Regions from separate parts of the Homo sapiens genome. Here all the other regions are linked to region 2. The links come from fine-mapping of genetic effects on gene expression. A gene starts in region 2. Each other region holds a variant in brackets. All regions are shown on one strand. Distances are between the middles of the regions. Region 1 overlaps SMAD3 (SMAD family member 3). Region 2 holds the start of AAGAB (alpha and gamma adaptin binding protein). Region 3 overlaps MAP2K5 (mitogen-activated protein kinase kinase 5).

Evidence for each region. PIP is the estimated chance that this variant, and not a neighbour inherited with it, causes the effect.
Region 1: its variant is the best candidate, but not a certain one, in a credible set for the expression of AAGAB in nasal epithelium (TOPMed, PIP 0.64).
Region 3: its variant is the best candidate, but not a certain one, in a credible set for the expression of AAGAB in whole blood (INTERVAL, PIP 0.77).

What each region holds. Positions count from the first base shown.
Region 1 is chr15:67,100,946-67,103,445 of GRCh38, forward strand. The region is part of intron 1 of SMAD3 (SMAD family member 3); the gene reads left to right. Among named protein-coding and RNA genes, the nearest start is that of SMAD3, 37 kb to the left of the region's middle. RefSeq lists an enhancer at 21-170. The variant C/T (reference allele first, on the strand shown) is at 1,101.
Region 2 is chr15:67,253,464-67,255,963 of GRCh38, forward strand. AAGAB (alpha and gamma adaptin binding protein) reads right to left here and starts at 1,198. Exons shown (of 10, transcript NM_024666.5): 1 at 1,096-1,198. The coding sequence starts at 1,168. IQCH (IQ motif containing H) reads left to right here and starts at 1,323. Exons shown (of 21, transcript NM_001031715.3): 1 at 1,323-1,484. The coding sequence starts at 1,434. RefSeq lists an enhancer at 939-1,258.
Region 3 is chr15:67,687,497-67,689,996 of GRCh38, forward strand. The region is part of intron 13 of MAP2K5 (mitogen-activated protein kinase kinase 5); the gene reads left to right. Among named protein-coding and RNA genes, the nearest start is that of SKOR1, 140 kb to the right of the region's middle. RefSeq lists an enhancer at 1,931-2,100. The variant A/G (reference allele first, on the strand shown) is at 1,137.

The sequences.
Region 1 (2,500 bases), 150 kb before region 2:
TGGGTATGTTCTGGGTCACTGAGGATCAGCTCTATTCCACCTGGCATTTTGTGCTTTCCATGGGTGCTCAGGAAACTGTCTGTCTCACCCTGAGGTGAGGCTCAGGAGGCTCTGGGGCTTTGTAGTAGAAATAGAAATATCCCAAGTCCTGGGTTGTGTCCTTGTGGATGTGTCTAGAACAATTCCTGTTGTGCTACTCGCTTTGGGCAGTTAGCGAAAGGGACTAATTGTGTGCAAATACATACGTTTGGTGTTTGTTGGGAGACTTGCCATGTGACACTGCTTCTTCTTTTCTTCTCTTTTTGACTATGAACACCTGACACTACAGGAAATAAGAAACTTTCCAGTACCTAATTTATGCTTACTCTACTTTCAAACCCTGTTGGCCCCAGCACAGGGTAAATGAAACTGTAGCTTATAGTAATATTTACGTATGGGAGTCAATGAGCTGTTTAAATACTTGGATGTCAGAAAAAGGTTTCAAATTTAGCAAGCCCCCTGACTCTCCCACCCTCTGGCATGTACTGGGTAGGCCTGCCTGCTCTCTGAGGTCGAGCTCTTGTATCCTGTCCTGGTCGGTGCCAGTATAGCAATGATGATGACAGTGATGATGATGCCACTGGAACAGGCTGAGCTGTAATTGAATTAAATATCTGTGTAATCCCTAGGAGAAGCTGAATAAGGTTTGAGGATCTTGGAAGTTCAGTTATACTCTCAGTAACTGAGGTGAGATCCGTAGGCAAGGAATGACAAGATCGAGATTGATTAGCTACATGACCTTAGGAAAGTGACCTAAAGGTTGTTCACATTCAGAGTCCTCATCTTTGAATGTGAATGATATTTCTGGCCTCTCCTATCTTATGGAGTTGGTGTAAGCATCTGCATGAGATGATGGACGTTAAAGTGCTTTGTTAGCTGTTGAGACTCTTACTGAAATGAAACCCAAGGATGGGTGCCACTGAAAGAAACAAGAATGAATGCAAACTAGTTTGTGTTGGGAGTTGTACTTGACACAGCTGAATTTGCCTTTGTCTTTAGGAGAGCCTTAGCTGTGGGAAGCAGGGCTTGGAATGCGCTGATATTTATTTCTTCCATCAAAT[C/T]GGATTATGAGGCACCTGATCTGTTTAAGGCTGTGTGAGTAGAACCAGGTCCTGCCTTCCGGAAGTTCATGGTTAAATTGTGTTTTCATGGGTCACCTGGAAGGCGAGCTTGTTCAGAATGAGGATAATTGACCCAGTGAATCCTTCCTGCCTCGAGGCCCACCATGTTATTCAGATCAGTCTTGGGGGAAATGCTGTGAAAGTGTGTGTGTGTGTGTGTGTGCGGTGTGTGTGTGCATGCTCGCGTGCATGAGTTTGTGTTGAGAGAAAGAAAAAAGCCAGGAGAGTAGGATGAGTCAGATTTAACCACTGTTTTTTCCCTTTTGAAACTTGTTATGTTCATACACATACAGCAGTCATGCACTTGCTCAGAAATGTGTGAAAACCACTTAAAATGTGTGAAATGCAGCCCTTTAGAAAGTGTGCCTTCCACCACATTCTTTTGAGCAGTGGAGTGGATTTGTGAGTGTTCATATCTGTCCTCATCTGTGGGAATTGTATGTCCAAGGTGCTAATTCAGGGCCATACTGGGATGACCTGTGTGTATAGACTTGTCCTGGGTGAGATGGGAGCAAGACCATCCAATGTATGATGGGGAATTCTGTTAAACAGGTAGAATTCTGAACCTCTTGGTGGTCCTGGCTGGTCAGTTGCAGGGAGTGACGTTGAATGGACTGGGAAGATCTGGATATACCATGTTTCTGTAGGCATGATACGTGGTCCCTTAGCTTGGTATTTAAAGTTCTTTGGAAGTGACCGCTTTCTGGATTTACCTCTGTGCAGCCCCTCTGCTCCTCCCAGGTGAGGCTCATCATAGCTCCTCTTCAATGTGCTTTGTCCACAACTGCTGCCATGTTTTAGCTCCCCATTACGTTTCCTGGGATGCTCTCCTAGACTCCTCTGTACCTTTCTTCTTTCAAACCCAAAACAGGTCCCATCTCCTTAGTCTTAACTGTCTATGAATGGTCTGTTGCCTCACTTCCCAGCTCTGGTATGTAGTACGTGCTCAGTACACATTTTTGAATGCATTAATTTGGCTCTTTTCTGTGAAGGCAGCTTGTCTGTGTGTCATTCATCTGCCCAAATTTGATTGTCAACTTCCTTTGTATGGAGCTGTACTGTTCTTTTTGTTGTTTTTCTTAACTCCTTGCCCCTGCCTCCCATCACCCCAGTGGAAGAGTTATAGTCAAGGTAGTGTAGTCAAGGTCGTGCAAAAGCTACACACTTGAACCTGTTCCGTGTGGTTTCACACAAGGCACATGGCCTCCTTGGGACTCACTTCACATCACTCGACAAGGGGATAGCAGGACCCACCTTGACTGTATTGAAGACTGCATGATGATCAGGAGAGAGTGAGGGATGAGAAAGAGTTTGGAAAACAGCAGAACACGATGCAAACA
Region 2 (2,500 bases):
TGAAGGGTAGCCAGGCACAGTGGCTCACGCCTGTAATCTCAGCACTTAGGGCGGCCAAGACAGGAGGATCACTTGAAACCACGAGTTGGAGACCAGCCTGAGCAACATAGCAAGACTCTGGCTCTACAAAAAATAAAAAAATTAGCCAGGGTTCGTGGTGTGAGCCTGCAGTCCCAGTTGCTCGGGAGACTGAGGCAGGAGGATCGCTTGAGCCCAGGAGTTCGAGGCTGAAGTGAGCTATGATCGCATCACTGCACTCCAGCCCGGGCGACAGAGCAAGTTCCCGTCTCTTTAAAAAAAAAAAAAGAAAAGAAGGAAGGAATGTAGGTAGGTTAGGTGACTTGCTCGAGATCATACAGCTAAGTCACTGCTCTGATTCTAAGCCATACACTTAAAACAGAAGTCTTGAGTTACCTATAATTCAACTTCACAGAGCCCTTTAGTAGAGTTGGCTTATTATCCAGTCCCATGTTCTCTCTTTTAAGAGTTAGTAAGTCTGACAGCCATTATGAGGGTCTACAAGCAAAAGCACTAGCCCAATCATACCCAAAAACTCATGTTGGCGGAGAGCCCATGCCTCAGATGAAAGGCGTGAATAACTAGAGTGGAGCGGACAAAGCTAACAAGTCTTATAATGTACACATTAAGAAGCAGAATAAACTTCAGAGTAAATACGCAGAATAAACTTCAGAATTCAGAGTAAACACTCTCTCCCGGAGCAGCAAGGATAACAACATCACGATATCAACAATTCCAGCACCTTACACTCCTGTAACCTAGCGCAATTTCCGGAGAGCCTTCAGGTTCATCTCAACGGATCCTCGCAAAAACCTGTGGCCTGGGCTGAGCAGAGCGGGAAATCAGTCTCACTTTACACAGGAAGCCGAAAGGAACGCCGAAGAAGGCCGAGTGGGCAGAAAAGCACGAGATTAAGAGATAGGGGCAGCCACCTGGGGAGACTGGGCGCCTCCACTGACTGGAGGAAGAACGCAGGGCCCGCTGCGGGGACAAGGCCCAGAGAGGCCGTGGTGCTGGGTCCGTCGCCCGCTGAGGCTCAGGGGCCTTGGAGGTCGGCCCAGGCGCCTATCTACTCACGTTGGACCAGCTGGTCTCCTGAGAAGACGGAGGAGCAGCTGGTGACTAACGCACAGGGTACGCCAGCAGCCATAGCTGCGCTCGCGAGCCGGTTCCGTCAGGCAGCCGCTTCCGCCTTGGGCTGCACCACGGCCGCCGGCGCGAGGGGGAGACAGGCCGGAGAGGGCGTTCTCGGAATGACCAGGCTGGCCTGACCCCGCCCCTAGACCCCCTTCCGCTCCCAGCGTGGAACAGGCCAGGTCGCGCGCGGTGTTGCCATGGGGACGAGCGGCTCCGGCTGAAGGTTTCCGTGCTTGGAAACCGCGCCTCCGCGGAGGTAGCCGTTCCCTGACCTAGCCATGGCACAGAACACTGAAAACCACGACCCTGTCGGATCCATCTTAATCCAGGTGGGAAACGGGCTTCCCCCGGCCCTGCCCTGCCCAGCCGCGCCACTTCCGAGCGAGGTCCCGCGCGCCGATTCACCGACGCTCACCCATTTGGTGCGCCGCCCCTAGACTCCCTCCAACTCGCGAGAGGCTCCCAAAAATGCCCACCCAGACCTTCCCCCACGGCCCAGCACACTCCCGGTGACTTACCCTGTAGGTTACGCCCCAGAAGCAGGACTTTCTGCCTCTGGGAAAACTCTAAAACCGTTCACCCGGAACCTTTACTTCAGAAAAATTAACCTCACGCTGAGGCATCATTTTTAAATGTTATATTCTGAAAAATTTGAACCCATGACGTCGGGAGTGGAGGAGAGACAAATCGGACACTCTAGGAGGTGATAAGAAATTTGGAGACAAATTGAAATATGTGAATTGCTTTTCTTAAACACCCCAGTTTTTTAGATCTAAATGTTCCTCATTGGAGAACACACAGAAAAATCAAGATAACTTGGAATGAAAAAATGTGACATTTAAAAACTTAGTGAAAGACCTTTTTAATTTGAGAGGGGAAATGTCAAGAAAGTCTTGTCCAATACAGCTCAATTTGTAATAGTTGCACTCAGATGTTTCTGAAATGATCATGGCATTTTGTTTTCACATTTATGTGAGGTAACTTTAAGATATTTCCACATATATCATCGGTTTTAACTATCACATATATAATAGCTGCATTTGACTAAGTCTTGAAGTCATTTGTCTAAGGTCACTCTGTCAGGACTGTCACTCAGTTGGTCTGAAGTGGGTCTTACTCGTCAAAGGGATCTAATTTTTCTGGCAGAATTTTGATCTCTTACCTCCCATCTAGGAGAGACTTCCCTAAATGTACCTTTTCCCAAATACAAGCCCCTGAACTCACCAATTTCATAGACTTCCCCATTAAGAATCATACCTAATCTTACCTGATCTTTTCTCACCCTCACTTTCACCATCACGCAGCAATGAGTTTAGCCAAACTGCGAAGTCTGAGGGAACGGTCC
Region 3 (2,500 bases), 430 kb after region 2:
ACATGCTCCTGGAGGCCAGAGACAGGGTCTTACTCATGTTTCTCTCCACAGCACCTAGTACCATATCTGGCACATGGTAAGGTGTCAGTAAATATTTGTGAGTGAGTACTTTTAAATGACTATGGATTCTTCTCAGAATGAAGTGTCATTTTGAAATGTATTCATTCTGAACTGTAGTCCATTAAATGGGAAAAGATGGAGCTCCTTCTCAGGCCAAATTCATGCTCTTCTGGATCGGCATGTTAGTTCACCTGTTTAGTAGAGACACCATTTATTCACCATTTGCTCAACAAATATTGTTTCCTGTATGTACCAGACACCATTCTAGATGTGGTAGTGAACAAAACAGACCAAGTATGCATTCATGGAGCTTCCCTTGAAGAGGGGAGTACTGAGAATTAACAGATCTATGTGTAGAAATGGAGCGTGTTGATGGAGGTAAATGTTAAGAAGAACACTGAAGCAGAAGAAAAGGGAAAGGAAGTATCTGAGCTGGGGGGTATTGCTACTGCATACTACGTGGTTAGGAAAGGCTTCCCCTAAAAAGGTAAGAATCTAAAGCAAAGGAGAAAAATTCAGGCAAAAATCTAAAGCAAAGGAGCAAGCCAGGGACAATTTGTGGAAGCATAGTAGTATTCCAGGGACACAGAGCCACAGCGCAAGAGCATACCTGGCAGGTAGGCCAGTGAGCTGAAGCAGAGTGGGCATGGAAAAGAGTGGCAAGGTGAGAGTATGGGGCAGCTCACAAGGGCCTTGGGGACCTCTGGGAGGACTTTCCATTTTTGCACTGAGTTGGAAAGGCTTTGGAGGTTTTAGGCAAAGAAGTGACGTGGTCTGACTTAGGTTTTAAAGGGATCATTTTAGCTGCTGTGTTGAACACAAACTATAATAGAGCAAGTGTAAAACTAGGGAAACCAGCTTAGTAGCATTGTTGAGGAAGGGGTGCATATAGTCTGGCAAAAATGTTTCCTTGTAAACATCACATTGGTTTTACAGTCCTACTTACTGAGCTTTGGAAATTATTTTCTTTGAGCTAGTATTTTACCCAAATACAGCTTTAATTGCCACAGTAGCAATAGAAATTATTTTCTAAATATAATGAAATATACAACTTTTTCTAGCTTGGTTGATTACCA[A/G]TTGATAATGATAATACACTTAAAGAATGTTGGACAGTTTAAAAAGCAATTTTACATTCATTATCTCATCTAATCCTCACAGTTCTCTAATATTGACAAGGTAACTGTTATCTCCCTACAGAGTTGGAAACTAAAACATCACATGCCAAGGCCAAAGTCATGTGCCAAATTTGTGACAGGATCAAAAAGACTAAAACCCAGGTCATATGTCTCCTAGCCCAGATTCATTGACTTTGTTAAAGGGGGTTGTTAGGTTCAAATTATGTCTCAAGGTTGCTGGTAAAGGGGACATTTATATTAGCAAATTTAATGTATCATTTAAAAAGCTATCAACCAGTGAGCAAGATACTGTGCTCGGAAGGGATACATTTAAAGATGTATAAAGTATACTCCTACCCTATGAACTTATTTCTTTTGGTGATGATACTGATAACAGCAAAAACATTAAGTAACTCTTAGTATAAAATGTCGTTAAAGCTGAGTGCAGTGGCAAACATCTGTAGTCCCTTTGACTCGGGAGGCTGAGGCAGAAGGATCACTTGAGCCCAAAAGTTTGAGGTCAGCCTGGGCAACATAGCAAGACCCTGTCTCTGAAATACATACATGCATACATACATTACATACATAAATCATATGCTTTGTCCCATATGTTACATACATAAATCATATGCTTTGTCCCAAACAAATGGTACAGACAGATGCTACAGAAATTCAAAGAAGATAGTGACTTTGATGGCCTGAGATTAAGGATGGGCAGGATTCAGATAGTTGGAAAATATGGAGGAAAGGTTTCTAAACCTGGGGGTGGGAAGGAGATAATGAAAACAGAATGAACAAAGCCTTAATGATGAGGTTTTTTTTTCTTTTGAGACAGTGATTAAAACAGTCTTGTTGGAATGCAAAGATTGATTTGAGGATGACTGGATGTCTACTACTTTCACACATAAAGTACTTCTGAAAACCAGATTGAGGGGAGAATATGGAAAAGTCATACAGTAGGCTTACATATATGTTAAAAAGATGTTGGAAAGCTGGAAAAATGCAGTCAGGTTCTTATTTACACCTTGTCTTTTGGAATATAGTTTAGCAGTTTTGTTGTTTTATTATTTTGTCTTTCCATTGATCCACTTAAGTCAGATGTATCTGATTGAAACTAAAGATTTGCTGCTTTTAGCATACCTCTTAATTTCCAGGCAGCACCTTCTTCCAGGAGTTCAAAATATTTGTTCATTAACTGTCTCCATCTGATATGGTAGCTTAAGAATGGTTTAGGGCAAACTTGTCCAACCCATGCTCCACGGGCCACATGAGCCACAGGACGGCTTTGAGTAGTGCAGCCCAGCGCAAATTTGTAAACTTTGTTA